5 separate regions of the Homo sapiens genome follow, and regions 2, 3, 4 and 5 are each linked to region 1. The links come from fine-mapping of genetic effects on gene expression. A gene starts in region 1. Each other region holds a variant in brackets. All regions are shown on one strand. Distances are between the middles of the regions.

Region 1 (6,613 bases):
GGAATAAGAATGTTCTAGGCAGAAGAAATAGCATGGATGAAGATCCACATGCAAAAGAAAACATGACCAGTTAGGAGAACTGGAAGTTCAGGGAGCTCTAGTGTAGACTGCATGGATGGAGTCAGAGCAGAGAGTAGGTAACAGACAGGTTGGGAAGGCATGGTACTCAGTCAAGTTATCTCTTCCAAGAGCTATATAACTGGAATACTGGGCAATGGAGATGATTGGCTGTGGGTCTATAGATCTGGCAATGTCCTGTAGGGTTGAAGCCTGAAACGAAGTCCTAGCAAACCAGCTCCACGTGCTAGGGATTCCTCCTTTTAAGTTCAAGTCTCCCTTGGCCCTCACACACTTGATTTCCCACCCCTGAATGCCTATAAGATTTACTGTCATATTCTTACAGTGAATGGATTCCCTTTAACATAAGCTAGTACAAGGGGGTTTGTACTTCTTGCTATCAAGTAGTGGAGGCAAACCTCTGATTATTAAGGGGCCACTGGATGTTAGTTATAGCTAGAAGGCAGGGTCCTGTTTGGAGTGTTGATCTGTTTATTTGGGGAAAGGTACTGACACAAGGCTGAAGCATTGTTTAAAAATCTGCTGTTTAAAAAACTTAGAGGGAGCTTATACTGCTAGAAGATTCACAAGCGCAGAAGCACTCTGTCTTGCTGCTTTCAAGAAAATAAATGGTTAAGAAGGTCGCTCTAACAACCAATCGACAATCTAATTGCAAGCAATGTGTCTAAGAGGAAATAACCTGAGTGATGGCTGACCTTGCACACAGAAGAACGCTCTGAGGGTGCCTTTCAATTGTGATTTTACCCCCAGGAGACATTTAACAATATCGGGAGATATTTTTGGTTGTCACAACTGAGAGGTGGGGTGCTTCTGGTATCTAGTGTGTAGAGGCTACGAATACTGCCGAATATCCAACAATGCACAGGACAAGCAAGAATGAGTCAGCCTGAAATCTTGATAGCGCCAAGATTGAGAAACCCTGCTCTATGACAACAATAAACAGAAGCTTACTGTCAGGAACTGAAAAAAAAAAAGCTGTCTCTCTGAAATGGTGAAAATGACTTTGGAACTCCCTTGATCTACCTCTACAGTTGCCATGCAAAATAAAATAAACCAATGGTTTTCTAGTCTTAAAACAAGAGCGTGAAATGTCCCTTTATCAGGACTGAGGAATATCTGAGGACTAGAGTTAAACATCCAGGTGACAAATTGTTAAACAATGGTCTGCACAGAGGAGTGTGTTTATCCTAGGGTGGAAAGAAGATAACACACCAAGCTCTGAGAACAGAGCTTCTATTTACATTTTTTTTTTTTTTTTTTTTTTTGAGACGAGTCTGGCTCTGTTCCCCAAGCTGGAGTGCAGTGGTGTGATCTCGGCTCACTGCAACCTCCGCCTCCCGGATACAAGCGATCCTCCTGCCTCAGCCCTGCTAGTAGCTGGGATTACAGGCACGTGCCACCATGCCCGGCTAATTTTTGTATTTTTAGGAGAGACGGGGTTTACACCATGTTGGCCAAGCTGGTCTCAAACTCCGGACCTCAGGTGATCCACCCGCCTTGGCCTCCCAAAGTGCTGGCATTACAGGCGTGAGCCACCGCGTCCGGCCCCTATTTACATTCTTAACCTTAAAAAAAAATTAAAGTTGCCTTGCGCTTTCATTTGGTCTGGGTGCCAGATAGTCAAGTGTTAAATATAGAGAGAGGCCTCCTGAGAGAAGAGCAGACACTTCTCTGAAGGGCTTATGGTGGGAGCTCACTTCCCTGACAGCATTCTCATGCTTCTGGGCTGGATCAGTCAAAACTATCAGCTTTTTGTTTACATCCAAGCAACACTACTCCAACTAGCGTAGTCATTGGAACAAATGTTCATAGTCCTGAGGGTACAGAAGGACGACACTGAAAAGATCCCAAGGGGAAATAAAATCTTTCTATTTGAGCAAAAAGGTAAAAGCACTATGTAGTCATCTTTTTTGGCACATCAAAAAAGTCATCGTGGCACATCAAGACAGACCTCACGAAAGCAATTAATATTCCTATATTATTAGGATAACTTTGCATAATTAAAATTACATAAGTGTACAACAGCTGAAAACACAGCATTAAATACAACTTTTAAAGTCTAATTTTTACCATGTGATAACCGTATCAAATTTTGCGAATATTTTGTGAGACTTGGCAGTAGATGGCGCTCACCTTTACTAAAAGTCTGAGCAGCGCCTTAACACTAACAGGAACTTAAGAATCCAGCTCTGATGTCAGGCAATCCCGTGTCCAGGTCAGGTCACTTTTTTAAGTCTCAGTTTCCTCACTGGTAATGTGGGGGTGGGGGCCTCCCCAATGACCTCGCAACTCAGACCGCTTTTGATTCTCTGACTACAGTGGTGGAGTTGAGACAGGTCGGCTGCTGCAACCGCCGTCTGAAATAGCAATCCGGAAAAGTCAGGTTGGGAAAGTGACAGAGTAGACGCCCTGCGGCTCTGATCCGGGCGGCGCCTCAGCTGCCCACACTATGTGGGCGGCAACGCACAAACTCCTTAACCACGTGGTGCCTCCATTCCCCTAGGGAGTCCCATCACAGGATAACTTCTAGCAAAATCAATCTTCAAGAAAAAAAGAAGGGGTCCTGCCGAAGATATAAGGAAGCTCCCTGGGGATCCCGCAGCACAGCACAAACTTAGTTCTTGAGAGCCGCACAAAACCAACTTCCGCCCCAGTGGAGTTGCGTCCGGAAGGCGCGGCCCCGGAGGTCACGTGGGCCCGCGGAATTACAGCCTGGCGGGGCGCTCAGGTGGAAGCAGTAGGCCACATTATGTCGACTGTTCCATGCAAGTCAGGGTGGGGGCCGTCCCTATCGCAGGCATGAGACAAGTCCAGCTGCGTCGTGTCTGGTAATCTGAGGGCAAGAAGAACGATTTGCAGAAGCTCCCAGTTTTCTTGGCTGTGGCACAGTCGCTTTGAGGGCCAGGTTCCTTCGGCTTCCTCCCGACTCCCCTGCTTCCCCCCGTAGGATTCCCGTTGGTATCGTCCGAGCCCCACCTCCCTCCTCTTCGCCCCCGCACGCCGAAAACAGGGGCCTCTCACGTGACCCCTGCGCGCTCCCGCGGGGGAGCGTAGTCTCGGAGGCGGCGCCGCAGGGGATTGAGGGGTTGACTGAGCGTTGCGAGCCTTAGCTTTCTCCCGAACGCCAGCGCTGAGGACACGATGTCGCGGCTCTCCCGCTCACTGCTTTGGGCCGCCACCTGCCTGGGCGTGCTCTGCGTGCTGTCCGCGGACAAGAACACGACCCAGCACCCGAACGTGACGACTTTAGCGCCCATCTCCAACGTAACCTCGGCGCCGGTGACGTCCCTCCCGCTGGTCACCACTCCGGCACCAGGTGGGCGCGGGCCCTGTGGGCTTCCCGCCCTCCCCTGCCCAGCCGAGCCGCACTGCCTCCTCGCCGTGCGGGCGGGGCCCGGGTTCGGGCCACGGTCGGGCGGGCGGGCCGCGCTCGGGGTGCGGCGGCGACTCCGGCAACATGGCGGCCAGCCTGGAGTCCACTCGTGGCCGGGCCGGGTGGGGAGCGCGCTGGGGGGAAGCGGACGCGCGGTTCCCAGTGGCTGCGGGGCTGGGGCCCCCCTCGAAGTGTTGCAAGTCGAGGTGCCTTTTAAAAGTGCATCGTAATTCCTAGCCTCACTTGGGGTCGGAAATGGGGACGTGGCTTCCTTCCGCGGGGGCAGCGGTGGGGTTGAGGATGGGGCCGGGCGTCGCGCCTCTGAGGTTGGCGGTGGGGCCGAGCTGCCTCTCCCTGCCACTGGTTGTTCACCCTCCCGGCGCCTCTCTCCGGAGGTAGCCTTCTCCGGAAGTCCGGGAAAGAGAAACTTAAAGACGGTAATGCTCGTTCGTGTCTCAGACTTGAGTCTGAGAAGGTCGCTTGAGATTTAATTACATTGGTTTTGCAGATAGGAATAGAATGTAGCTGACGTTTGAGCACGTAGTTAGTGAAAACTTCACACTTCAAAGTATGCGAAAAGGAAGAAAAGTACCCATGTATGTACCGGGTGTTTTGCGTACGTATCCTAAGGCTAAACTGGAAGGTAGGTAGTGAAACCTAGGAGGTAGATGCAGAGACGGAGATGAGTAAACTCTCCTGACATTGTATGTTTATTCTTTTTTCAATTGTTTTTAAAATTTTCTTAACTATGTCCTGTGCTCAGATAGCGTATGTTTAGTAGGTCGTGGAACGGGGGTTTGTGCCCAGGTCTGTGGGTTTTCTAAAACCCGATCAGGAGCGTGTCTTTTGTTATGTGCAGTCGCATAGGGCTGGTTAAGGCATACATACATTTTAAAGCAGAAATTGCCATATACCGTGACAACACAAAAGAGAGAAGGAAGATAAGTTTGAGGTAATAAGCGGGAGAAACACTAGAGGTTTAAAACCTGCAGTCTCGTATGATTGGTTATTCTAGTTAACATTAGTTAAGGAGTAATGTTTACGTAGTTAACATTGGCTTCTTGACCGAAGAATGCCGAAGTGTAATGATTTTTATCACGGCATTCATATTCTACAAATTCTCCTCTAGTTTTAGTATTTTATAAAAGTTTAATAAAGTATATAGTAAACTTAATGTTTTGTTTTTAGTTTAAGGAAGATGTAATGGTAACATTTCAAAACGAGGGAAGTAAATTGCAGTATAATACTGGGAATTCTAACCGCACTATTTTAAGATGATAGAGCAGAATATGTTTGTCTCAGTCTTAATTTGACAGTTTCCTTTCAGAATTGTAGTGTGTGTGTAAGAGAAGGTTGGAAGTATCAAATTAATTTGTCTTTGTGTAATTGAAGTGCGTGCAAAGGAGGTATGTATTTTCTGGAAATCATAAGTGGATGTAGTGTGGTCTGAAAGGTAGCAAGTTTAGTTCATTGTAAAGAACATTTCAGACATTTCACTTTGCTACACCCGTCAAGCACAAAGGTTTTTAAACAGCATGTTTTATCTATACAAACTTCAGAAAATTTATTTTTACTTTATGAACCCTTCCCCACCCCACCGTACATGTCCCAGTCTTTAATAAGTACTAATGATGAAGTATTGAAAGCAGTGCCTCTGCAGAACTATTTTTTAGGCAGGAGCAAAGCAAACGAGAATGTTTGGAGGCATCTAGTTTCTAGGAAAATGAATGGAGCCCAATTCTTTTTTTTCTTTTATTTTGCTGCTTTTTCTCACTGGAAAATAGAGCCCAATTTTATAGTCCGTTCTTCTCCAGAAATTGAATTATGGTGATGAGTACTTGTTTCTGGATTGTTTGGCCTAGGATGAACTATTGACAAATACCTTGTTAACCTGAATTGTATGCACTTGAATATGGGCTTTTAGATGTTGTCTCCAGTTGTGGAGGATCCTGTCGAGAGTGGATCATTTATGAATCGAGAATCCCTGGGAAATTATCTTTGTTTGCAGCAGAATGGGCATCATCAGTGCTTGGGTTCAACCTGTTAAACTACTACTGTTACTACTAAAAATCTCAGGGTTTTATCTGATGTTTGGGGGTAGTGGTTTTCCTATGTGTAGTGTTGGTATTATATCAAAGCCTTTTTCTCGATATTTTTATGTATTAAGGATGCTTTGAAATGCCTAAATCCTTAGTGGCTGTGGGTGTCTTCCAATAGTTGTCCTGTGAAAAAGGATTGGTTAGACAGATACCATCAGGCACTGTACTGAGAGTGACCACTAGCTTGTTTTTCTAATGCGTTTACTTACAGCTTTGTAATGATTGGAATTTCTTAGTAAACCAGTATAAAGTTTTATCATTTATCTGAATTAGTAATTTTGATGCTGTATGTAATGCTTATTGTTCAAAAAGATAAGTAATACAGATTCAAATAAGATACTAATAAAATCATTGATTTCATGCATCTCTCCCCCCAACTCCCCAGAAACCTGTGAAGGTCGAAACAGCTGCGTTTCCTGTTTTAATGTTAGCGTTGTTAATACTACCTGCTTTTGGATAGAATGTAAAGGTAAGAAACTTTGGGGATGCAAAACTGTTTTGTTATAGCATTTTAAAATACAGTAATTCTTGAACACTTGAAAGTTATGTAGGACATTTAGGATATTGTGCACTATTTATTTTGCAAATCCAGTACTCCTTTAAAGTGCCAGTTGCCTCGCACTCCCCCTGAAAATCTCTTTTTGTCTCCCATCCTCCCTTTAGATTCCTTAAGACTTGATAATTAAAGCTCAGTCGTTTGTTTTTTATGAGATGGAGTCTCCTGTGTTACCCAGGTTGGTCTTGAAATCCTAGGCTCAAGCAATCCTCCAACCTTGGCCTCCCTAGTAGCCAAGACTACAGATGCGTGCTTCCTCACCTGGCTTTTTTTAAAGCCTGTTCTAAGGATTGAGAGTACTTTAATACACTGGAATTAGCTGTGAGTGAAGGTTGTGTTGAAAACTGTGTCCTGCAACATGAAATATAAAGAGACCTTATGAAACTGTTGGATGCTTAGGTGTAGAGAAGAAAGAGGTAGGGAGAGTTGACTTCCTGTGCTTTTGTTAATACAAGAGGTAGAGCGCTAAAGGGACGTACATTGAAATTCAATAAGATTCTTATTAGA
Region 2 (5,000 bases), 350 kb before region 1:
AACAAAGTACATTTCATTTGTCCAATACTATTATTTCTCACAGTTTAACATGTACCCATATGTACATTTATATTTGTAAATATGCTCATTAAAGCTGAGGAATTCAAACCATATCTAGAATAGGGATTACATCCAAAGCAATTCTAGGTCTATTGATCATCCCTTTGGAGACCTTTAACTTTATAGTTTGGCTGTTCCTTACCACTGATTATGCCAGTGAGAGGCAAAGTCGTGCATCTACATGTAGGGGGCACAGCAGACTTTGGGCAAGACAGAAGTAAATGCTGTTTTTGCTTTTACAACATGCTTTGCAAATGCTTTGAGGATGGAGAGAGGAGAGCAACAACAACAAGCGCAATGTGGGTCACCACAATTTTAAGTTGGTAAGTTTTTACACCAAAAAAGGTATAGAATAAAATGTTCACATTTCTGTCACTCATGATTAATAAGTGTTCACATTTTAAAATATCTATTTCAACCTTTTTAAGATAAATAACGAACAATTTAAAAAGTTAACATTCCCTTTAGACTTCCCCAGTCCGGCTCTCTCACTCCAAATGCAACCATTTTCCTGTCACTGATGTGAATCCTTCCAGTCCATGCATCTCTTTACTTTTATCACATTAGAGCCATCTTTAAATAATACATAGCATTATATTGTATATTTAAAATATGTATGCAAATCATTACAAACTTTGTATACTGTCCTACTTTTTTCACTCATTTTTTGAAACCTAGTTACGTTGAAAGTTATAGATTTAATTTGTTCACTTTGTAATCAATGTTTGGTCTTCACTATATACAGTCATCCCTCGGTATCTGTGGGGGATTGGTTTCAGGTCCTCCCTCAGATAACAAAATCTGCAGATGCTCAAGTTCCTGATATAAAATGGCATAGTATTTGCACATAATGCACAATACACATCTTCCTGTACACTCTCAATTACCTCCAGATTACTTATAATACCTAATACAATGTAAATGCTACGTAATTCTATAGTTGTTATACTCTATTCTTTAGGGAATAATGACAAGAAAAACATCTGTACATGTTCAGTACAGACACAGTTTTTTTCAAGTATTTTCAATCTGTGGTTGGTTGAATTCACAGAGGTGGAACCCATGGATAAGGAAAGCCAACTACACATGACACACTTTATTTATCCATTGTCTGCTGATAGACCATTAGGTTCTTCCTAGTTCTCCACTATAAGATACAATGCTGCCAAGAGCATCCCATGCATGTTTTCCCATACACATGTGCAAGAGTTTCTCTAGGGCAGATACACGGAAACAAGAACCACTGTGCACTATAGATAACGTGCATTTTCAATTATGCTGGAATTGCCAAAGTGTTCTTCTAAGTGGTTAAAATATCACTCCAACTCATAGTGTATAACTCATAGTATACAACTCATTTCCCACATCTCTGCTATAATTTGATGACAGCAGATATTCTGATTATTCCCAAACTGACTAATGAGAATAAAATGGTACCTTTTTAATTTGCATTTCCCAAATTACTAGGTAAGGTTCAGAATCTCTACTGTGAGCTGCCTGTTCCTTTTAATCATTTCTCAGTTATGTTGTATTTTTTTCTCACTGATTTGTAGAAATTCTTCCCACATTCTAAATAATAATCATTGTTATATGTTACAAATATCTACTTTCAGACTGCTGCTTGTTTCCTAAAATTTGTCTAGATTATAAATACATTTTGAATATTTACAGTATCAAATATAGCATTGTTTGCCTTATGGTTTATGCATTTTGTATTTTGTTTGTAAAATCCTTTTCCATACCAGGATTATAAAAATATTTACCTTTATTTTCTTAAAATTATCTTTGTACTTCTGGAATTGCTTCCTGAATATTATCAGAGAATGGAATCAAATTTCATTTTTGTCCAACTGGAAAACCAACACTATTTATCCCATCTTTTCCCCCAATGACTTGTAATGCTCACTCTATCATATTCCAGTTTGCCACATAAAATGGATCTTTTTCTAGGCTTTCTCAACACTGTTCATTGACCCCCATCAATTCCTCCACCAATACTTAGCAGTCTTATTTACTATAGCTTACTACCTGATTATCTTAATTATTATAGGTCTTACCATCTTGTTGACTTTATCCCTTCTTGTTTTTCTTGTTTCAATTGTCTGGACCATGCTTAGACATTTGCTTTTCCATATGACTTTTAAAATCATGTCAAGTTCCATTCTCAAAACATCCTCTTGGAATCTGGATCAATGTTACATTAAATTTATAAACTGGCCAGGCCCTGTGGCTCATGTCTGTAATCCCAGGACTTTGGGAGGCCGAGGTGGGAGAACTGTTTGAGCCCAGGAGTTCAAAACCTGCCTGGTCAACACAGAAAGACCCTATTTCTGCCGAAAATACAAAAATTAGTCAGGCGTGGTGGCATGTGTCTGTAGTCCCAGCTACTGGGGAGGCTGAGGTGGGAGGACCACTTGAGCCCAGGAGTTCAAAGCTGCAGTGAGCCAAGATTGCACCACTGCACTCCAGCCTGGGTAACAGAGTGAGACCTTGTCTCAAGAAAAAAAAAAATTATAAATTAATTTTGGAGAAAACTAACATCTTCAAGATATCAAGACTCATCCATGAAAAAGGGACATCTCTCCAATTATGTAGAGATTTAAAAAATCTTTTAATAATGTTTGA[A/C]GTTTTTTCCATAAGGTTTTGGATAGCTTTTGTTATATTTATTGGCAGGTACCTTATACATTTTCTAGTTCGTTACTGCTAGTGTGTGGAAATATTACTGGTTCCTGTATGTCTTACATGTTGATCTTTTCTTTTTTCTTCTTTTAATCTTTTTTTTTTTTTTTTGAGGCAGGGTCTCACTCTGTCACCTAGGCTGGAGTACAGTGGCACAAACATGGCTCATTGCAGCCTCAACCTCCTGGGCTCAATCCTCCCACCTCAGCCTCCCAAAATGCTGGGATTACAGGCATGAGCCACCATGCCCAGCCATCTTTTCTTAGTCACCTTACTGAACTCTTTCATCAGTTCCGAGAATTTGTAGATATTCTCAAATTTTCCAAGTAGGAAATGATGCTGTTTGCATAATGACAGTAATTTTTCTTTTCAAGCTTTATGCCTTATTTTTCTAGTCTTGTGGCACTGCCTAGGGACTTTCAGTATGAGGCTGAATGTTAGTAGTGACGGCAGATACCTCTGTATTGTTCCTTACCTTGATTAAAAGTAATGCTTTTAAAGTTTCACTTCTAAGAACAATTTTGGATATAGGTTTTTAATAGGTATCATTTATCAGATTAAGAAAGTCTGCTTATATTCCTAGTTTGCTAAAACCTTTTATCACAAATGGGTATTGAATTTTGTCAAATATGTTTTCTGCAAACATTAAGAAGATAATTTTTCCAGCAATATTTTAATGTGGTGAACTGTTCTAGTAAATTTTCTAACATTGGTAACAATCATGCATTACAGAGATAAACATTATGTATGAAATGTTTAATAGTACTGTATTTTATTTCCAAATATTTTACCAAATAGTTTTGCTTAGATACACTATTGGATTATATAGTTTTATAAGTATTAAAAGTTTTTCCTAATTAGTAATATTACTTCAGTTTACCTATAAAAAACTATTAATATAATTGTATCTTATTCTGAATAAGTCCATTTACATGTTATTACTCATAATTTTATTCTTTAAAGATATCCAAATCACTGTACACAACAACATAATTTGTATTAGTATTCTTGGCTAAAGTATCATAAAGATGAGACTTATAAACAACATTAACTTCTTGAAATTTTCCTATCCCTGGATTCGCATGGTCTGGTCAATCTGATTCACTTTTAGTCAATACACTATATAGGCCTTCCTATCAGCTGTATCAGATATAACCTTTTTCAGTTAGTGCAAGACAAAGGTCTACTCTGATAAACTGTACTTATCCTCAAATGAAACAAATTATTTTCTAATAACCCCCTTCCAAATCATCATCAAAAGCAACATCACAAGGGCTCAGAAAACCACTGTCTAAGATGGTCTCAAGCAACAGGGCTGCATCACCTTTAAATTTTGGTTCATGTATTGGAACACTACAAAAGTACAGGATATAATTAAAATCTAAACTGTTACCTATCCTAAAAACTTATAAATATTTCTTTGTTCCATTTTAATCTTCATAATATTAAATCAATTCAACCTTTACAATTTTATCAATTTGTTAATAGCTTTTCCCACGTTTCCAAGGTTCCAATAATTCCTCCAAAACTTTTGAACATTTCAGATATACAGGAAAAATTGCAGGGAAAAAAAAGTACAATTAACACCACTATGCCCTTCTTCTGAATTCACTTTTAGCGCTCTCTCCTTAAACACATAAACAAATATTATCTCTCTTTAAATATACAAATACATTTTATTTTTCTAAACCACTTGACTGTAAGTAGCAGACATCATGACACTTCACTCCTAAGTATTTTAGCATGTATCTGTTATAAACAAGGACAATCTCCTCAGTGACCGCAAACCATTATTATACTCCAAATTTAAATACTGATTCAAGATCACTAGTATGTAGTCCACATACAAACTGTCCAAATAAAGCCCTTTAGATCTTTGTGTGAGGATGTGTGTACAAGTACATGCACTTTTAACCCAGAATCCGACCAAAATCTGCATTTAGTTGTCACGTCTGTTTAAAAATCTGGAACAGTCTTTTGTTTTTTGTCTTTGATGACTTTTACATTCTTTTAAGAATCTAGGCCAGTTATCTTGCAGGAAGTCCAGTGGTATGTATTTATCTGATTATTTCCCCATGCTTAGATTCAAGTTAAATATTTTTAGCAATATTTAACTACTAAGGTAAACTGTGTCCTTCCCACTGAGAGTCAAACAATGTCAGTTTCGTCTCATTATTGGTGATGTGAAGTTTGATTATTTGGATAAGAATGTCTGCTGTTTTTTTCATCATAAAAATACTTATTCCTCTGTAAATAACAAA
Region 3 (6,613 bases), 52 kb after region 1:
ATCATGGTGAAAGGCAAGGAGGAGCAAGTCACGTCTTACACAGATGGCAGCAAAGAAAGAGAGCTTTTGCAGGGAAACTCCTGTTTTTAAAACCATCAAATCTTGTGAGCCTCATTCACTATGGTAAGAACAGTGCAGTAAATACCCACCCCCATGATTCAATCACCTCCCACTGGGTTCCTCCCACAACATGTGGGAATTGTGGGAGTTACAATTCAAGGTGAGGTTTGGGTGGGGACACAGCCAACCTATATCAAAGTGCATGAGTAGAAAAGTGTTATAAATAAAGTTTGGAAGAAAATATGTCAAAATAATAATAGTGGAGGCTAGGTGCTGTGGCTCACATCTGTAATCCCAGCACTTTGGGAGGCCAAGGAGGGATTGCTTGAGGCCAGGAGTTTGAGATCAGCCTGGCCAACAAAGTGAGACCCCATCTTTACAAAAAAGAAATACAAAAACTAGCTGGGCATGGTGGTGTGTGCCTGTAGTCCTAGCTTCAGGAGGCTGAGGTTGGAGGAGCACTTGAGCCCAGGAGTTTGAAGCTGCAGTGAGGTATGATCAGGCCACTGCACTCCAGCCTGGGTGACCTGTCTCTTAAAAAAAAAAAATAATAATAATAATAATAATGGTTATCAATGAGCACTAAGATTATGAGTATATTTTCTACTACAATATAATCATAAAATGTATATAACTAAAATAATTATGTAAATATATGTAAAAATAAAATGCATATAGTAATCTAAAGATAGTTGAGCTTTTTAAAAAGTCATCAACTATATCAGCTTGGCAGGATATGATCAAGATACGGGCAATAAAGCAGCAGATGGAAACCTCTGCTCACGCTGCATTTAATGAGCAGTGGATGGGGCAGTGAGGGGCAGGAACTCAGTGTCTCCCACTCACACTCTAGGGCCCTCCTCAAGGGGCTGCATTAGTGGGTGGGGTGAGGGCAGGATGACCTGCCCGTTACCCTTCTTGCCCCACCCAGTCTCTGGAGAGCAAGCACCAGGACAGCCATGGTTTAGTTGCTGACACAAGGCAAAGAGAACTCAAGATTCTACCCCTGGACCTTGACCTCCTGGTGAAAGGGCAAGGCTACACGGGTTTGGTCATGACAAAGGAAGCACTTCCTGGTTTGACTGTAATGAAAGCCTGCAGCCATGAGAAGTCACAAGACCCTACTGGAGTTCAGCAAGGTGTGGCCAGTGACCTCTTCTGGGCCTAGTGCTCTGAGCCAGCCACAGCAACTCAGTCTTTACTATCCTGGGTATGAGTGCCCAGACATGGGTGTGCCAACAGGGCATCCAACAGCTCTTATGCAGGGCAAACACTTCTCATAGTAATGCCACCATAGCCTCTGCAGATATAGGATCCCAAACCCACAGAAACGCACAACTGGACCACAGTGGCCCTCTGCCATGCCCTCTGAGCCAACATGATGTTTTACCTGGCCAGCAGGAGGAGTCTGTGGTGAGTCTGTATAACACCAAAGAGGTGGGAAAGGTAGGACTCTCCTTGAGCATCTCCAGAGGCCATAGAAGTTCTATTGCTTCCTTCTCTCAGAGCTCTACTGAGGCCTCAAGAGGTTGAGCTGAAAGCACAGCTCAAGGGGAGAGAGGCTGGAAGCAGGGAGAGGGAGAAGGGTGCAGGCAGAGTACCTGCAGGGGACATGGGACAGGGAGCATGTCTGAGGAGGGGCAGACAGGAAGCAGTGAGTGGCCAGTGAGGGAGGGGTGCAGGGAGGCTCTCAGGCTCCCAGCAGCCCCTCTCTCCAGGTAAGCTTTGGTCTTGCACCCTGTGCACTTGGCCTCCTGGAAGCAGCACATGAAGCAGCCGGTGTGGCTTCCGTGGGCTCAGCCTTCTCTGGGCTCTCGGAGCAATTTATTTCCTAAAACTTGCTCTGCAACCTACCCCTGCCTCCCTGGGTCACTGTAAATGTCACCTGTGCTTGTGTCAAAATGCAGCGTGAGTGGGTACCATTGGCCAGTTTCTTCTCCAAGACCCTGGCTGGCATAAGAGCTGCAGACTAAGATTATTGGCCCAGTTCTGCCCAATAAGCAGCACCGCCTTCCACTGGGCTGTTCTGTCACCATCATTCAAACCTGAACCATGATGGATGGCACTGGGTGGAAGAGCAGCAGATTACCCCAGGGATTCTTCAAGAGAACCAGCCTGGGGTGAAGCATGGCAAGCACTGGGCCTTGTTATGGCCAAAGTCTAGCCCTGAGGCCTGCCAGCAGCAATTGAGTTTCTGTGGTTTGCTTCATCTTGGAATCCCTTGTAACAATTTGTTTAATATCAGGCACACACGAGGTATCTTGAGGATGTTTCTAAAACACCCACCTCTGCTGACAAAACACATCAGTGGGCTGGGGGCAGTGGCTCACACCTGTAATCCCAGCACTCTGGGAAGCCGAGGCAGGCAGATCACTGGAGGTCAGGAGCTCAAGACCAGCCTGGGCAACATGGTGAAACGCTGCCTCTACTAAAAATACAAAAATTAGCCAGGTGTGGTGGCATGTGCCTGTAATCCTAGCTACTTGGGAGGCTGAAGCAGGAGCATCACTTGAACACAGGAGGTAGAGGTTGCAGTGAGCCAAGATTGCACCATATCCATGATGGAGACAGGGGGTGGCTGGAAGAGTAAGTTCCCTGTTACTGCAGATGATCCAGAAAAGGCTAGAAGCCTACCAGGCACAGACTTTGGAGAGGCTGGGGCATCCTGAGGACCCTGACTTCAAGACACTGGCAGGCTGACACCAGC[C/T]TCTTCAAGTGTGCCCAGAGTGTGGGGTGTACCTGATATGGGTTTGCTCTGCCTACTGACATTCATGCTTCTTTCCCACAAGACCTCAATGTTGGGGTGAAGCATACAGATAAGAAATGAGAAGGACTTCAGTCACTAAACTGTTGTTTTTATTGTGTTAAACATAAAATTTGTCACTATACCATTTTCAAAGGTACAGTTCAATGGCATTAAGTATATTCACATTGCTGGGCAACTATCACCACCATCCACTGCCAGAACTCTTCATTTTGTAAAACAAAAATCCTGTACCCGATAAACAGTAATTACCTATTCTTTCCTCTCAGCCCCTGGCAACCACCATCCTTTCTGTCTCTCTGAATTTGGCTACTCTAGGTACCTCATATAAGTGGAGTCATAGCGTTTTTGTGCTTTTGTGACTGGCGTATTTCACTTAGCAATAATGTCTGCAAGGTTCATCCACATTGTAGCATGTATCAGAATTTCCTTTTTTTTTTTTTTTTTGAGATGGAGTCTCACCCTGTCGCCCAGGCTGGAGTGCCATGGCACAATCTCGGCTCACTGCAACTTCCACCTCCCAGGTTGAAGCGATTTTCCCGCCTCAGCCTCCCAAATAGCTGGGACTACAGGCGCGCGCCACCACACCCGGCTAATTTTTGCATTTTTAGTAGAGATTGGGTTTCACCATGTTGGCTAGGCTAGTCTCGAACTCCTGGCCTCAAGTGATCTGCCAATCTCAGCCTCCCAAAGTACTGGGATTACAGGCATGAGCCACCACGTCAGGCCAGAATTTCCTTCCTTTATAAGGTGAGCCACAAAATTTTTCCATCCATTTTTCTGATATGCCCCACCCTAACCACTTCCTTATCTCAAGGATGGGAAACTACTTCACCCACTCAGAGTACCCAGTACCATGTTTGTTTATGATTGAAAGCTTAAACTAATACATGTAAGTCATCAAGTTCTGAGGAAAAATGTATCCCCAACCAAGCTTGTGAATTCTCTACCTCATAAGAACTGAGATGTGTATTATAAAATAATGGAGAACATTTGAAGAACTTGGAAAAATGTAAATTTGGAGAAGACATTTAAAAAAATGAAGTATGTTTTGCCAAGTCAAATTTCTTTAAATGGTTGAGTTTCAAAGGAAACTGGATTCACAGTTACCTAAAAGCACTTGTTAACACTCCACAAAACTCTGTTATGGTCAAATATCTACGTCTACTCTCTTATCCTGCCTTTTCAGTGGGTTGCTTTGATTTAGCAAGGCACTTCCTGCCAAGAATAAACATGTTTCAAAACTCCAAGGACTGTGTATATGCATGTGTGTATGTATTAAATGTATATTATTATTTAATATAATATATAGAGTTGTCACGGATTTGAATATTTTTTCTGGAAGGACACACACAGATTGCTGAAGCTGGCTTCCTTTGCAGAGGAAGCTGGAGATGGTGGCATGGGGACAGGTGAAAATGCTAGCTTTCTGTGCTATTGGCTTTTTTTCATATGCTACATTTTAATGTTTTCTAGGTAACAGCATTATAGGCTATTTTGGTTTTCCTCATTCAGGCTTTCCATACTAACAAATCAACAACAGAATATGTTGCTAAAAACCAACTCATTCATAAACAAACTCCAAGGTTACTTTAAAAAAATTGACCAAATTTGAAATTTGCCAACGTATGTATTCTAATTACTCAGATCTTTAGTGGAAATCAATTTTTTTCCAAAATTAAAAACTAATGATTACAGCTGAGCATGGTGGTGGCTCATACCTGTAATCCCAGCACTTTAGTAGGCCAAGGCAGGTGGATCACCTGGGGGTCAGGAGTTCGAGACCAGTCTGGCCAACTTGGTGAAACCCCGTCTCTACTAAAAATACACAAAAATCAGCTGGGTGTGGTGGCACATGCCTGTGGTCCTAGCTACTCAGGGGGCTGAGGCAGGAGAATCGCTTGAACCCGGGAGGCGGAGGTTGCAGTGAAGCCGAGATCGTGCCACTACACTCAAGTCTGGGAGACTCCATTTCAAAAAAAAAAAAAAAGGAAAAAAATAACTAACAATTGCTCTACTTTGGGCTTAGCCTCAGTATTCATATAATCATTCTTAGGGAATAAGGGAAGCATTAGGAGATCCATTAAATGAGAAAGTTTTCCTTGTTTGGGATGATGTTATAAAAACCAACAGAATGACTAATTTTCAATACATACCTCTACTCCATCATCCTGATAATTCTACATTAATCTCTGTATAAATTTTTCAACTATTTGTGGTCTTGAGACTGAAAAGTTTTCTTTCATGACTTGGTGTTTCCAGAGATCTAGGGGGAAAAACATACTGGCACTAGTACCACAAAACATTGTGCTGTCATTAATGGCTATAAAATGGCAACTCTCTGAGACAGAACATGGGACACAATAAGCTGTTTCTAAACTCAGCTGCCCCTTGATACATGCAGGGGACTGGGGATTGTTCCCAGGAACACCCTCAGATCCTGAATCCATGCATATTCAAATCCTGCAGTCAGCCCTGGGGAGCTCGTGGATACAAATATCTGCCCTCTGCACACGTGGTTTTCACATCCCGAATGCTGTATTTTCTATCCTCATCTGGTTGAAAAAAAATCTGTGTATCAGTGGACGTGCACAGTTCAAACCATGTTGTTCAAAGGTCAACTGTATGCAAAAACTAATGGGGGCTGGGCAACTGGGGATCCAAGACCCTCTGGAACATGGGAACTAGGAAGATCTCTAACCTGACTCCTAATGCAAAGATTTGGAAGAGCACCTATGAAATCCAGGGAATATTCCATTACCATAACTAAAAACCCCAAATCAAATATTAGTATCAATCCTACATCATCTTTATTTTTATTAAGGCCTTCTATGTATCTGCCAATTATTTTGGTCTAAAACAATGATCAGAAATAAATGAACAGCTATTATATTTATCTGCTTAAGTTCCTAGTGCTAGAGGGCAAAATTAACTTGAATATATAATAGTGATAAAAAAGGAGAGGAAATTCAAAAGAGAGAAGTTAGAGTTACAGATTAGAAATGTTGACAGACTGAACTTTAGCTCCAAGATTGAAGCAGCAATATGGCTGACACAGATGGGATGAGGCATATACAAAGTTCACTTGAGGCCAGGAGTTCAGACCAGTCTGGGCAACATAGTGAGACCCCATCTCCACAAAACATTTAAAATAGACAGGCATGATGGTGCATGCCTGTAGTCCTAGCTACTTGGGAGGCTGAGGTGGGAGAATCCCTTGAGCCCAGGAGGTCAAGGCTACAGTGAACCATGATTACATCGCTGCACTCCAGCCTGGGAAACAGGTTGAGATCCTTGCTCTAAAAAAAAAAATTAAAGGGGTTGCACGTGATCAGTAGCTGCAACACTAGAAAGATGGCAGAGCAAGAGCGAAGAAAAATCCCTTTGGTTCCAGAAAATCTCCTGAAAAAGAGGAAGGCTTATCAAGCTCTCAAAGCCATCCAGGCAAAGCAGGCACTTTTGGCAAAGAAGGAGCAGAGGAAAGGAAAAGGGCTCAGGTTTAAATGACTGGAATCATTCCTACATGGTTCCTGGCGGCAGAAACGTGACAAGGTGCATCTCAGATGACTAGAAGTGAAACTTCACACTTTGGAATTGCCAGATAAACATCCTTTGGCCTTTGTTGAACGCATTGAAAGGATTAATGGTGTGAGTTTACTGGTGCAGAGAACCATTGCAACACTTCACCTAAAGAAAATTTTTAGTGGTGTCTTGTAAAAGTAACCCCCCAGAACCTAAAAATGCTGCGTATAGTGGAACCTTATGTTACCTTTGGATTTCCAAATCCGA
Region 4 (6,328 bases), 59 kb before region 1:
ATCTGGGCTGCCTGGCAGAGAGCCTTGCTGTTTACAATTAAAATGTTTCTGCCACAAACAGCGTTCACACCGCCTACAGGTGGGAGGTGGGGGCGTGTATGGGGACAGGAGAAGATGTGTAGGAGCCTTAAGGTCTGTAGTGTGACAGTCACACTGACCCCTGGCTCCCATCGCCTCTACAAGGAAAAAGGCAGAGCCACTAAAGGGCCAAGCTTTATTGTTCTTTAGTTCTGTCCCCCTCCTGCTGCCCCAGGAGTAGGGCTGGCTGAGGCTCTGGGCCCAGATCCTGGGCCTCCCTTGCCCTTCCTAGCACATGCTGGAGCTCAGCCTGGGCCCTATATAAGCCATTGACCTCCTGTACGTGGAAGAGGTAGAATGCACCTGCCCACAGCACCAGCCCTACACTGGGGGTCCAGAGCAGTATGGCAGCTTCCCCGGCCCCTCCTCCAGCCGCCAGGACACACAGCAGTGCCAGGAGAAGCAGCCCCAGGCCAATCACATAGCTAGCGAAGGTGGCCCACCAGCGAGCCTGAGCCATGCCCAGACCCAGCTCCGTCCAGGCCTCCTTTAGCACACACATCAACGGCGACCTCTCTGCTGGTCCTACAACAGAGCAGGGCAGTGGGGCAGGAGAGAGTCAAGAGTGGAAGGGCTGCTTCAAGCGGGGCAAGGGCCAAGGAAAGGGTGGGGGTGACTCACCGTGGGTAGAGCTGGGGTTCTGCTGTGGGGGGCTGTGCCTCACAAACAGAGTAGCCATCAGGGCTTCATGATCAGAGAGGGGGGTGCCCCTGTGAGGGTCAAAGCCTGTAGTGGTTTCAAAACTCTTACAGGAGATGTAAAACCCAGAAACTGCCTAGGAAAAGTAAGGGCCAGAGAGAAGCTTATATATGAGGGCCTCTTCCCAGAGAACCAGCTCCCGGCTACCCCACTTTCCACCCATCAGTGGTCCAAGACTAGACTAGCTGAGCAAAGGATCTACACAGGTTAGTAGACAAAGAGACACAGCATATGAAAGCATGTTGAAGGGAGGAGCCTGACCTTGTAAAGCACGTAGTCAATGCGGACACCAAAGGGAAATGGCTTCAGCTCCTGCTGGCTGACGTAGCAGTTCTTGGGTACCATTGTGTTGCCTTCCTCAGAGCCCTAAGGGAATCATTGGCTCATGCTAGGATGTGGGGGAGAAGGAGGGAGAGAAGCTGGGGATATAGGTGGGGAAGTAACAGGCAAGTCCTCACCTTGAAGTCCCGAGTTTCAAGATAGGCATCATGAAGCCCTGTCCACTCCTTCAGCAGGCAGCAGCCCAGGTCTTCTGGGTGCATGTTGAGGTCTCCACACAACAGAACCACGTCTGCCTTCTTGGATGTGTGGCTGGGGGAACCAGGTTGGTGAGGCGGGAGTTCTTCCATCACCAGCTCTTCCCCATGACTGGGGCCTTGTTCACCCTCAGCCCCTGGGTCCCATCCCACTTCCCATTTCAAGCCCAGGCTCACACACTGGATGAACTGGGCCAATTCCCAAGCTTGGGCCACACGATGTGCTAGGTAGATGTCCTTCTGTCGATTGTATTCGGCATGGAGCTGAGCAAGATAGATGAGATCACAGCAGATAAGACTGAGGGTCCCAGGGGTATGTCTGAATCAAGCCTGTGTCTGTCACTTGGCATGGTGTTTGGTATACAATGGATAAGCCTTGCCCATTGCTTCCTTATAAGATCTTGCCCCCACACCTCATCCCCAGGTATGAGAGCTAGAGAAGTACCATCTCTCTGTCCCAGGACTGGGCTGCATGTCCCAGCCCTAGGCACTGCCAGCTTCACTCACATGGGTCACATAGGCGTTGAGCACCATGCCACTTAGATGGAGCACCAGCAGCCCCACAGCCTTCCCACTGAACCAGTCACCATGATGGATCTGCAGGCAGGAGGAGATAGAAACTCAGGGCACCGCCACCATCTTTCTGCCCATCCCCTGCAGCTCTCAGAGGGCTGCCTCCTCTACCTTGTATTACTGGAGGTGGGGAAGGGAGGTGGAAGAGGTCAAAGGTCTGCCTTACCATGTAGGGGTAGCCATTGAGAGTGTAGATGTGCTGGGTAAGCTCCTGGATTGGATGTTTGGAGAAGACACAGAGGCCACTGCCAATGATTCCGCTGAAAGCCAAGCCCTGCTTAATAACCAGAAAAACAGGGAGAGACACCCAGCCTTCTTCCCCTCCCTTGTCTTCCAGCTCTGATCAGCTATTTTTTTCTTTTTCTACTGCTGGGACTAGCCCTAGAACCAAGGCGACAGCCTTTGGAGGAGTATAGGGCAGCCAGAAAACAAAGCTGAAATGGGCTGAAGTCATAGGACCTTCTTGGTTCACCCTTCTCCTTCTCTCACATCCAGAGGGAGAGGAGGCTGGAGGAGACTGGAGAGTGCAGGCAGGATAGGGAAGGGCTGGCAGGGCCAAGAGCCTCCTGGGATGACAACAGGCTTCAGGCCAGTGGGCTTCTCACCTCCGGAAGTGGTGTGCAGCTGGGTAGGTAGGTGACAGCTTCTGTCTCAGGTACTGGAAGTCCTGCTCACTCCACACCTGAGGGAAGCGGTGAGGATGCCTGCTTGGTCTTTCCCCAGTGGGACGGTCTGTCCCTCCTCCCAGCCTGGGTTCCGCACCGTGCTGCACAATCTCACCTCCTCCAGCAAAGCCAGGTCGAAGCTCTCCTGGTTCAGAAAGTCTCCCAGGCGCCTCATGCGGTCGGCCCGGTGCTTGCTCAAGTACGGAATGCCCCTAAGGAAGGGAAGAGCGGGGCAGGGGAGGCGACTGCTGGGACCACCGGCGCTGGGGCCAGATGTGGACTTTGGAGGTTCGGGTTTTCCCTACACCCTGAGATCGTGGGGCGGGATAGGGGGAGGAAGGCTGCATGGGTGCGAACGGAAGGTGGCCCCCAGACCGCACTCCGCAGACGCACTCACCAGCAGTTGAGGTTGAAGATCCGCAGTCGCAGGGAGAAGTTG[G/A]GCTTCATGGTTGGGGAGCTCCAGGGGCGCTAGGCGGCTCGAACTCTCCAGCGACGGCCGCGGTGGGGACGGGGGCGGCCGGCGGCGCCTTCTCCCCAGACCGTTCCTTCTTCGCAGGCGGCGCGCACAGGTGGGCACCAAGCCCGCGTGGCTCAGGTCGGGCCCGACTCCCGCGTTCCCCCGGCAACCGGCCGGCTGTTCCCAATCAGGCGGGCCGCCAACCCGGAAAGGCGATCCGCTGCCGAAATCCGGGCGCCCAGGCTCGGTAAGGGCCGCGCGCTAGGACCCTGGGGGTCCGGAGAGCGCCCCCGGGTGGGCGGCTCCCGGTTCCTTTTCCTCCAAGCTCGTCCCCGGCGGTCGCGGCCGCCCGCGCGCCGGCGGCCCAGCAACAGGCGCAAAGTTGAGGAAAGGCCCAGCCGCCACGGGCCGCCCTCGACCCGCCCCTGGGCCCCGCCTCCTGCGAGCGGCGGAGGCGGGGCCGCGCGGTTGCCGGAGCGACGCGCAGTGTTTGGGGTCACCGGGCGTCCCCGGGCGCGGCCATGGCAAGGCCGCAGCCGTGCGGGCCCCCGCACGCTAGGTGCGGCTCGCCGTCGCTGCCGGAGCGGCCGCTGCAGGTGAAGGTGGTGGGGCTCTTCAGCTGCCCCAACTTTCAGATTGCGAAGAGCGCCGCTGAGGTAACCACAGAGAAACCTCCGTCGTGGGCGGCCCTCCCCGCTACCCGCTCTCGGCCGCGTGGACTGCAGGCGCCGCGCCTCCTCGAGGCGGCGGGGGTCGAGGCCCCACCGGCCGAGGAAGGGGCTGGCGTGTCCTGGCCGGGCGGGCTCCGTCTGGAGGACCGGGAGGAGAGTATAGGGGGGCAAGTGCGGGTCCGGGGGCGGGCGTTCCACTTGGCGACTTTTAAAGGGAGAACTGAGCGAAGGAAGGGTTCAGAACCGCGCTGGGAGATAAGGTAATCCCCTCCGAGACACACACACACACACCCGCAGATTTTGTTCTACGTCAATTTTTTCTTTAATTAGAGATATTTAAATTTATGGAAAAATGATTACTATATAACTAGCTAATTTTTACAACCCCGCCACCTCGGCCCAAGCGATTTTTGTTAACTATTCATGCGGGGAGATTCTTTTCTTTGAATTTTATAGAGCCGTCACTGCGTTCCAATCGAACTAGATGCTTCACAAGTGCTTTGGAAAATCATTTCTTTGTAAACACTCAGAACGATACTAAAGGAAAAGCACTTGAGGAAACTGGAAGAATTTGGCCAGATCAGTCATGCTGCAGCACACTTACAACCTGAAATGCAGGAGAAATGTATGAAATGTCGGCATGTAGAATTCAGCCCTTCTTACAGGGTTTGCTCCAGAAATGCTGTCCATGGCAAACTTCTCGCCGAAGCTCACTTGACTCCAGGACCATGCCTTAATTAATGTTTTTAACTCCCGAAGTACCCAGCTGGATACTTGACAACAAAATGTTCCCAAATAGAAGATATCTTGGCGCGGTGACTCACGCCTATAATCTCAGCACTTTGGGAGGCAGAGGCGGAGTTCTAGACCAGCCTGGCCAACATGGTGAAACCCCGTTTCTACTAAAAATACAAAAAATTAGCCGGGCGTGGTGGCGGTCTCTGTAATCCCAGCTACTCAGGAGGCTGAGGCACAAGAATCGCTTGAACCCGGGAGGCGGAGTTTGCAGAGAGCTGAGATCGCGCCATTGCCCTCCAGCCTGGGCGACAGAGCCAGACCCCGTCTCAAAATAAATAAATAATAAAAAGAAAACAAGTGATCAGAAGTCTGTGAAAATAATACATGAATCATCAAAAGTAGAAATTGTGGTCTGTGTTGCTTGGGCAGACGGGATCAGCAACCTTTTATTACCAAAGTTAATGGCCATGAAGTTAATTACAAAGTTAATGTATTAATGAGTTTCAGAGATTTTTTTTCTCTTTTTTTTCGCTCTTTTTCTGAAGGCACATATTTTCTGTGCCGACTCCACATTGTAAAGAAAGTGTTGACAAGTTTTTTTCTGTAAAGTCCAGATAGTAAATATGTTAGGCCTTCTTGGCAATAGGGTCTCAGTCACACCTGTTTAGCTTTTTCCTGTGTTGCAAAAGCAGACACAGAGATGGAAATGAATGACAGTATTCCAGTAAAACCATATTATGGACACGAAATTTGACTTGCGTATAATTTTCACATAACGTGAAATACAATTCTTTTGATTTTTTAGAATTGTTTACAGGCCGAGCGCGGTGGCTCTTGCCTATAATCCCAGCACTTTGGGAGGCTGAGGCGGGCAGATCACGAAATCGGGAGTTCAAGACCAGCCTGGCCAACATGGTGAAACCCCATCTCTACTAAAAATACAAAAATTATCCAGGCATGGTGGCGGGCGCCTGTAATCCCAGCTACTCGGGAAGCTGAGGCTGGAGAATCGCTTGAACCCGGGAGGTGGAGGTTTCGGTGAGCTGAGATCGTGCCACTGTGCTCCAGCCTGGGCAACAAGAGTGAGACTCTGTCTTAAAAAAAAAAACAAAAAACTGTTTACAAATCTAAAAATTATTCCTCTCCAACCCCTGATGTAGAAGACAGTAGGTCGAGAAAACAATATCTTTATTGTATTAATAATGTCAATTTTCCCTTTCTTAAACTTTTACCTACTGTAGTTATATTCAAATATGAAAATTCAGCTAGTTTTTTTTTTCTTTTTTTGGAAGAGATGGGGGTCTCACTGTGTTGCCTAGGCTGGTCTTGAACTCCTGGGCTCAAGCAATCCTCCTCGACCTCCCGAAGTGCTGGGATTATAGGCATGGGCCACGGTGATGCCCAGCCTCTAGTTCTGTCTTAATAAAGGATATCTGAATGTATTCCTAACATGATAATTTGTGAGCGATCCCAGATGCCTGATTAACTGACAAAGATTTAGATTTGTGTTGAATGTTCCCAACACAAAGAAATAATAAATGTTTGAGATGATGGATATGCTAATGATAAGTATACATTATATGTATTGAGACATCACTACCCCATAAATATGTGCAATTATTATATGTCAATTGAAAAATAAAAAACAAAATGTAAAAACCAAACACACAAAAGATTGAAATTTGTAGAGAATAGGAACAAATATTGCATACATTTTCATTTGGATATAGTCCGTTCTACAACAAATACTAAATTACTAAAAAGACATGTGTTTCATTTGAAAACTGCTGGATTTATAGTTTATTCCAGATGGTTAGAAATAGCAGTCAACCGGGCCAGGTGCGGTGGCTCACGCCTGTAATCCCAGCACTTCGGGAGGCTGAGGCAGGCAGATCGCCTAAGGTCAGGAGT
Region 5 (6,613 bases), 140 kb after region 1:
AGGCTAAGGCAGGAGAATGGCGTGAGCCCGGGAGGCGGAGCTTGCAGTGAGCCCAGATTGTGCCACTGAACTCCAGCTTGGGCGACAGCGTGAGACTCCGTCTCAAAAAAAAAAAAAAAAAAAAAAATTCACGCCTGGACTGATAAACTTGTTGAGTTTAAGGATCCTGTCTTATTTATATTTCATACAGCCATTCCATTACTACACTGTGCATCTAAATCTCTCACTCAGTTGGTTAAGGTTCTGATGGGCAGATTAAGCCTCCAGACAAAGGCTGTAGAAGCCAGTTATCATTGAAAAGAGGAACATTTTTTCAAAGTCCAAGGCTTGCGCTATTTAAGCCCAGCCAATTGTTTTCCAAAGGGTGGGTGACCTACATCTCTAGGAGTAACAGACCAACCAGAGAGTAGATGAAATGGTGAAGCATCTATTCTACTAGAAAAACAATTCAAAGAAAACACTGCCATTTCCCCATCTTCTGACCACATCATAGTGCACTATAACCTGGTTTCCACCCCTACCATGCCCCTGAAAGAGTCCTGCAATGCTGCCAATGACCACCTGACCAAGCTGCTTGGTTTTTAGGAGTTCCTTTCTTGACGTTTCACAGAACTCCACAAGTAACCACCCCCTCCTAATTAAAACTTATTTTTCTGTTGGTTCCCACAATACTATTTCTTCCTTGTTTCTCTGGTCTATTTAGTTTCACTGCTTCTTGTTTCATGACCTGCCCCTTAAATGTAGGTATATTACTCAGGGTTCGGGTGTGGTGGCTCATGCCTGTAATCCCAGCATTTTGGGAGGCCAGGGCAGGTGGATCACTTGAGGTCAGGAGTTTGAGACCAGCCTGGCCAAAATGGTGAAACCCTGTCTCTACTAAAAATACAAAACATTAGCCAGGCATGGTGGCGGGCACCTGTAATCCCAGCTACTCAGGAGGCTGAGGCATGAGAATCGCCTGAACCTGGGAGGCAAAGGTTGCAGTGAGCTGAGATCGTGCCACTGCACTCCAGTCTAGGTGACAGAGCAAGATACTATCTCAAAAAGAAAAAAAAAAGTAGGTACATTACTTAGGGCTTCATTTCAGACACCTCTAGCTTCTCCCAGTTGTTTTGATTCATCATTGTGGTTCAACCTCTGCATTCATACCTCAGCTCATACCTGTTCCTGAGCTTCAAACCTGTAGCTCCCCACAAAACATTCACATCTGAGTTTCAGCAAACCCCCTCAAATGCCTTGTTGTCCTAGGGCCTACGTTATTTTCCTGTCTAAAGACACTCTTCCTCTTCCTGGGTTCAGTTTCAGTTAATAGCCTCCTCCCTAATCCTCAGGAAGTTGTTTAAATTCCACCCTTACTCTCTCGCCCCAACTTCCAGATCCAGTCTTCAAATCCTGCCATTTCCACTTCTGCAAAGTATTCTCAGGTCTGTTCCTCCTTCCTATTCTCACCGCCTCTCTGCCTTTCTATTCTTCTATTGTCATTGCATGTCCCCTCCTAATTTTTCAGGTCACTGTTGCAACAACTGCACTTCTTTTCTCAGGGGCTCTCTATTCCAATCCATTCTCTCACTTACACCCAAGATAGCTGTTAAAAACACAGCTATGATCATATTTCTCTCTATGGAAACTCACTAATGGCTCTTCTTTGTTTGTAAGACAAACTCTAAAATAATATAACTAGTAGGTCTTTTACAGGCTGCACCCAAAACACATGTGTGGCTTGTTGCCATCCATCATGCCTTTACATCCCAGCCATAACAGTCTTCCTACCATCCTCCAAGAAGGTAAGATTTTATTTCTCAAAATAAAATCCCCCAAGCTGGTCCTTCCCATTTACATTGCCCTGACATTCTAATGCCATTTCGTCTGCTTAAGAATCTTTTCTTCCCTGCCAGACAATATCTTACTCATGTTTTAGTATCAAGATTAAATATCTATTCCTCTGGAAAGGCTTTCTAGCATTTCTTCCATCGGACAGTGCTCCCCTCCCCCAGGACAAATCTCTCTCTCTGCAGAGTCCCCATGACTCATGAATGTATTCAATTATAAGCTGTTAGTAACTAGATTATAATTTTTGCTTGGAGATTGAATCAACTTTTATAGATGATAAATTCCTTAAAGATAAAGATCATTTTCACTTAGTTATCTATAGGTCCCTGAATGCCTGGAACAGTCCCTGGCGGAGTAAATACTTCATATTTGGTAAGTAAATGCCTAACAATTGGTGATTATTAGAAGGGCTCATAATCCATGCTAAGGGCACAAATGAAGAACAGTAAACCTGCAGTGTTTCATTCATTATTGGGATATGAACCATTCGTGATACAGTGATGATTTAGTAACTTGCTGTTTCATTGCTTTAAACTCACCCTCATAACATTGCACTCAGCACCCTGTCCAATTGCTTTCACCTACCCACATGTGGCATACGCTTCTAAAGGCCATGATCAGGTCAATTTGTCTGTAATTAGCAAAGTGAGCATTGTCCCTGTGACTGCACAATGAGCATGAATGAAATCATCATTCATTCTCACTAAAAACATACATATTATAAGAAGGAATTACGTAGCCCTCTAACAAATAATACCTGTAAGATAAAGAAGTATCTTTCACATTTTGTTTTTTGTGATGAACCTCAGTAAAGAAAATAAAATGTATTACATCCTTATAATTAGCTGAGATTATTTAAATAAAATAATTATTCTCTTGGTTGAGAGCTTTTCTAAAAGTCTAACTGGGTTTTACAAAAACAAACAAAAAACAGAAAAAAGACTGGATTTTGTAAGAATGTTTTTTTAGCAGACATTTTGTCTCCTAGGCAAGAATACCTGGCGCTTGTTTTCCAGAAGAGCTGCTTCCCAAGTCCACGTGTCATACAGCACAGCAAATCTGTCCACATCTGCATGGGCCCATCCCCACTCCTGGCCACTCTTTGGCTGGCTGCCCACTTTGTGACCTGGGAGAAAAGAGGGTGAGAATGTTTAGAGACAGGGCTTCCAAGGAACCTGTTCCAATTAGAAATGTGCCCCTTGGATTATCAGCTCCATCTCAGAAACAGAAATACTGAACCAGTCCCTGGGACAAAGCCTGACTTCATACTTGTTGACTTCTAAGTCGACAGGAGCTTTTGTTTTTATTTTTAAAATTCAGTTTCAAAGACTAATCTTAGAAATAGAGTCAAAATTTAGTTAACAAGAAATCTATGCTAAAATGTCCTTAAACCCACAATTTAAAGGCAAAGTATACATTTCTCCTTCTCTAAAAACAAACCCCTGGGGGTTTAACAACAAACTTAGTTTGACTTGCTATTTCCATCATTGTGAACCAAGTCGAAAATTTTCAGAAACGTTTCCAAGATATTCCTTAATTATGTTAATTACTAACTTAAATCAATGAAGTTAATTTTCATTATTCAGCTGATTTTTTTTAACTTTGTTCACGTTACTTTTCACTACTGGTATTATTATTGCTTTAAATTTTTAACTATTGTATTTCAGAATTAAATATTCAAAGATAAGATACTTTCATGTGCTGAAATTTAAGCTCAATAATTATCACATATCTAATGGGTACTAAGCAAGAGAAAGATGATCAAGAACTTCCGTAGCAACAGTTGGGAAATCATTTCACAATAGATG[A/G]CTATACATTTACCAGCTCAATTGAAAAATGCCCATGTGGTTAAATGACTACTGACTAAGTGTCTCAGTCCAGTTAAATTCTTAGCAGCTAGAAATAGTTGCATGCTATTATAAATTAATATGGACCAAATGGTGCATTGGTTTGTAGGATAACCAGTAAAGATAAAAGCTAAGGGCTGAAATTAAATACCCTGGAATGTTGGATGCCATCATTGCGTCCTATGATTCAGATACCAATGGCAAAGACAGGACAAAGAGTTCAATCCTATATCAAATTAATTCTGTCTAGGATCTGAAAAGTTAGTTGTCAAACTTTCTTTGAGCAGCATTTTATAACAATATGAATGTGAATTATCTTTAATTACAGTCTACACATATTACAAAATAGCACAAACCCTGATTAAGTTTCCCTTTAGGTATTGCAATGTGTCTAGAAATTCTAAGCTCTTTGCAAGTGTAATTCCAATGCTGTCATAGTATCCCAAAAGAATATTCTTACCTCATTCATTTCTAAAATTGGATCGATTTGAGTGATGCCAAAAGGAAGAGAAAATACAGGTTATGGGTTACTTGATTACCCTGAGTAATGATTTCTTCCTCTGGGGCTTGTCTGGCATTTTCCTAGCCAGATGTTCTTGCATCCTAGTGGTTTCCTGTTAGGAACTCAGGGCTGTCTCTGCTGCTAAATGCAGTTTCCTCAAGGTCTACCACTTAGAAAAGTCATTTGTTTCACTTGCTTACTTTCCTTCCTTCAGGGTCCTGCACCACATCCCCTGCACCCAGTGGGTGACGCAGAAATGCCCCTGGGAGTAAAATCCCAATTCTTGGCTTAAGCCTGTTTTAGTCAGAAACCACCCAATTTAGCGTGCAGGTCACCAGAGTGGGTAGAGGGTCAGAGGTCAGGTCTTTGGCCCTGAGAAATGAAAATGCAGGGGCCGTGCTGTCCCTTGTACCTCAGGAGAGCAAGGAAGAAACTGGGCCTTCCCTGGCAGGGCTTCCTGCTCCTGCTTCTGTCTCCACTAGGCTTTCCCAGAAGGCAGCACCTGCTCCTCAGTCAAAGCACCTGCCTCGCACCCCTCCGGCCCCCTCAAGCCCACGATCTGCCTCTGAGTGTTGCACTAGGATTTTTATCGCTTAAAGTGTCTTAATTCTTTGTTCCCTGACACACAAGCCCTCTAGCTATTGAAGGGGAGATCATGAGAAACCTTCCAGGGAACCAGAGCACAGAATGACTGTTAGTTGTTTTTTCAAGTCTATATAAACATTTCAACAGATCACAAAGAAAACATTTATCTCTTCGGTCCTCGCAAGAGAAGTCAAAGGAACTTTTGTTTCTTATCAAGAGCCTGGACATCTTTGTCTGTCGTAACTGGAAAGAGCCTGTTGTACTGAAATCCTGTTATCATGGTGGATTTGATCTTCAGTGGCCAAACATGAAGAATTAAAAGCATAATTCTTGACTGAACTGGTGGGTGGGTTGAACTTTAGGAGTACATGGGCGGTCATTCCTGGCGCACATATCAGTGTGACATGAGCCCTGGAGCATGTCGTCCCTCTCAGCCCTGCTCCTTTCTGTCTCCTGGGGCCCAGTGACTGAGGCCTTACGCTAGAACTGTGTATCATCCAACTCTCCATTTATAAAGGAAACTTCCTGCTGCAACAACAAAAAAAAAAAAGAAAGAAAAGAAATGTCCCTGGTCAACAAACAGAGTCTGAATCACAGCAAGAATTACAACCCGGCCCTGAAAGAGTAGTCACCATCTCTATCAGAAGCAGGGCTTGAGCTGGAAACAGAACTGTGTCTCTCCTAAAGTGAATGCATTTTAGGGGTGGGGGAAGTGTGCGCTTATTGAGTTTTCACATACTATTGGATATGTGTTTATATTTTGGGGTGGAGAGTATTAAAAAGGAGCCCTTAGTGTTTTTTGTTTATTTAGGCAGTTGATTTTTTTTTTTTTTTAAATCTGACTTCTCACCCCTTTCTTTCTCAATGTAATGGCTAGCCACAAGCAGCAACTCTGCCTCTAGTTCCTTGAGATCACTCAAGGCTTCCTCATACATGACATGCACCCCTTGCTGGTCCTGGGTGTGGATGCAGCCAGCTTCTGTGCTGTAGTAGTCATCCTGGTTCTCCACTTCCGAGAACTCCATGAATTGGACGCTGTGGACCTGGAGAAAGAAAGCCAAGCCCAGATGTTACTGGAAAAAGGAGAGCTATATTTTGCCATCCCACATGGACAAGCAGCAGGCTTCTGCTCCCACACAGTGGGCTGCCAGTATGAAGCTGTAAATATTCTGAATGTATAAAAAGCTGTATGCAGAAAACATATTAACAAAGAATATTGGCAGGAAGAGGTAGTTCCTGAGGTGGATAACTAGCTGATTAGTTTGTTTTTCTGACAAATTCAGTAGCAACTGGAGAAAGGTAGGAAATAGAGCCTAGAGTGGTCTCTGGAGTCAGAATGCCTGGGTTCAGGCTCTGGCTCTGCCAGGATCTCATCCTGGGCAGGTCATTCAGCTATTCCCAGCCTCCGTTTCCTCATCTGTAACATGGGGACTGTGGAGACACTATAGACTATGTTAGCTGCCAGGAGTATGTGACTCTATGAGTGTAAGGCACTTGGAATCCTTAAATGTTAGGTTAAAACTATTTTTCTTGTAATTCTATAAGTACTTCTAAAATGTGTTAGCACAGTTTCATGGCTTACTAATGTACTAAGTTGAATAGTGTCCCCCAAAATTCATGTCTACCTGGAACCTGTGAATGAGAACTTATTTGAAAATAGGTCTTTGCAGATGTAATCAAGTTAAGATGAAGTCATACTGGATGAGAGTGGGCCTAATTCAATGACTGTGATCCTTACGAAATTTGGAGACAGACACGTAAGGGAGAAGGTCATGTGAAGACAGAGGTAGAGACTAGGGTGAGTCAAGGAATGCCAAGGATTGCCAAGGGTTGCCAGCAACTACCAGGA

Evidence for each region.
Region 2: its variant is fine-mapped to the expression of CD164 in whole blood (INTERVAL, PIP above 0.99).
Region 3: its variant is fine-mapped to the expression of CD164 in whole blood (TOPMed, PIP above 0.99).
Region 4: its variant is fine-mapped to the expression of CD164 in whole blood (TOPMed, PIP above 0.99).
Region 5: its variant is fine-mapped to the expression of CD164 in whole blood (INTERVAL, PIP above 0.99).

The regions. Positions count from the first base shown.
Region 1 is chr6:109,378,985-109,385,597 of GRCh38, reverse strand. It overlaps CD164 (CD164 molecule), which reads left to right and starts at 3,131. Exons shown (of 6, transcript NM_006016.6): 1 at 3,131-3,394; 2 at 5,936-6,019. The coding sequence starts at 3,220. RefSeq lists enhancers at 2,514-2,743, 2,824-3,173, 2,729-3,238 and a silencer at 3,394-3,673.
Region 2 is chr6:109,727,624-109,732,623 of GRCh38, reverse strand. All of the region lies in intron 4 of FIG4 (FIG4 phosphoinositide 5-phosphatase), which reads right to left. Among named protein-coding and RNA genes, the nearest start is that of FIG4, 39 kb to the right of the region's middle. The variant A/C (reference allele first, on the strand shown) is at 2,686.
Region 3 is chr6:109,327,480-109,334,092 of GRCh38, reverse strand. It overlaps the pseudogene CCDC162P and the pseudogene RPL7P28. Among named protein-coding and RNA genes, the nearest start is that of CD164, 52 kb to the left of the region's middle. RefSeq lists an enhancer at 4,981-5,508. The variant C/T (reference allele first, on the strand shown) is at 2,768.
Region 4 is chr6:109,437,792-109,444,119 of GRCh38, reverse strand. PPIL6 (peptidylprolyl isomerase like 6) reads left to right here and starts at 3,492. Exons shown (of 8, transcript NM_173672.5): 1 at 3,492-3,664. The coding sequence starts at 3,530. It overlaps SMPD2 (sphingomyelin phosphodiesterase 2), which reads right to left and starts at 3,396. Exons shown (of 10, transcript NM_003080.3): 1 at 2,949-3,396; 2 at 2,667-2,763; 3 at 2,492-2,568; 4 at 2,053-2,146; 5 at 1,821-1,910; 6 at 1,495-1,577; 7 at 1,236-1,368; 8 at 1,039-1,143; 9 at 700-853; 10 at 201-603. The coding sequence starts at 2,998. The coding sequence ends at 215. MICAL1 (microtubule associated monooxygenase, calponin and LIM domain containing 1) reads left to right here. Exons shown (of 25, transcript NM_022765.4): 25 at 1-58. RefSeq lists enhancers at 2,512-2,591, 2,752-2,821 and silencers at 3,235-3,440, 3,082-3,901. The variant G/A (reference allele first, on the strand shown) is at 2,991.
Region 5 is chr6:109,238,522-109,245,134 of GRCh38, reverse strand. It overlaps the pseudogene CCDC162P. Among named protein-coding and RNA genes, the nearest start is that of CD164, 140 kb to the left of the region's middle. RefSeq lists an enhancer at 2,348-3,547. The variant A/G (reference allele first, on the strand shown) is at 3,639.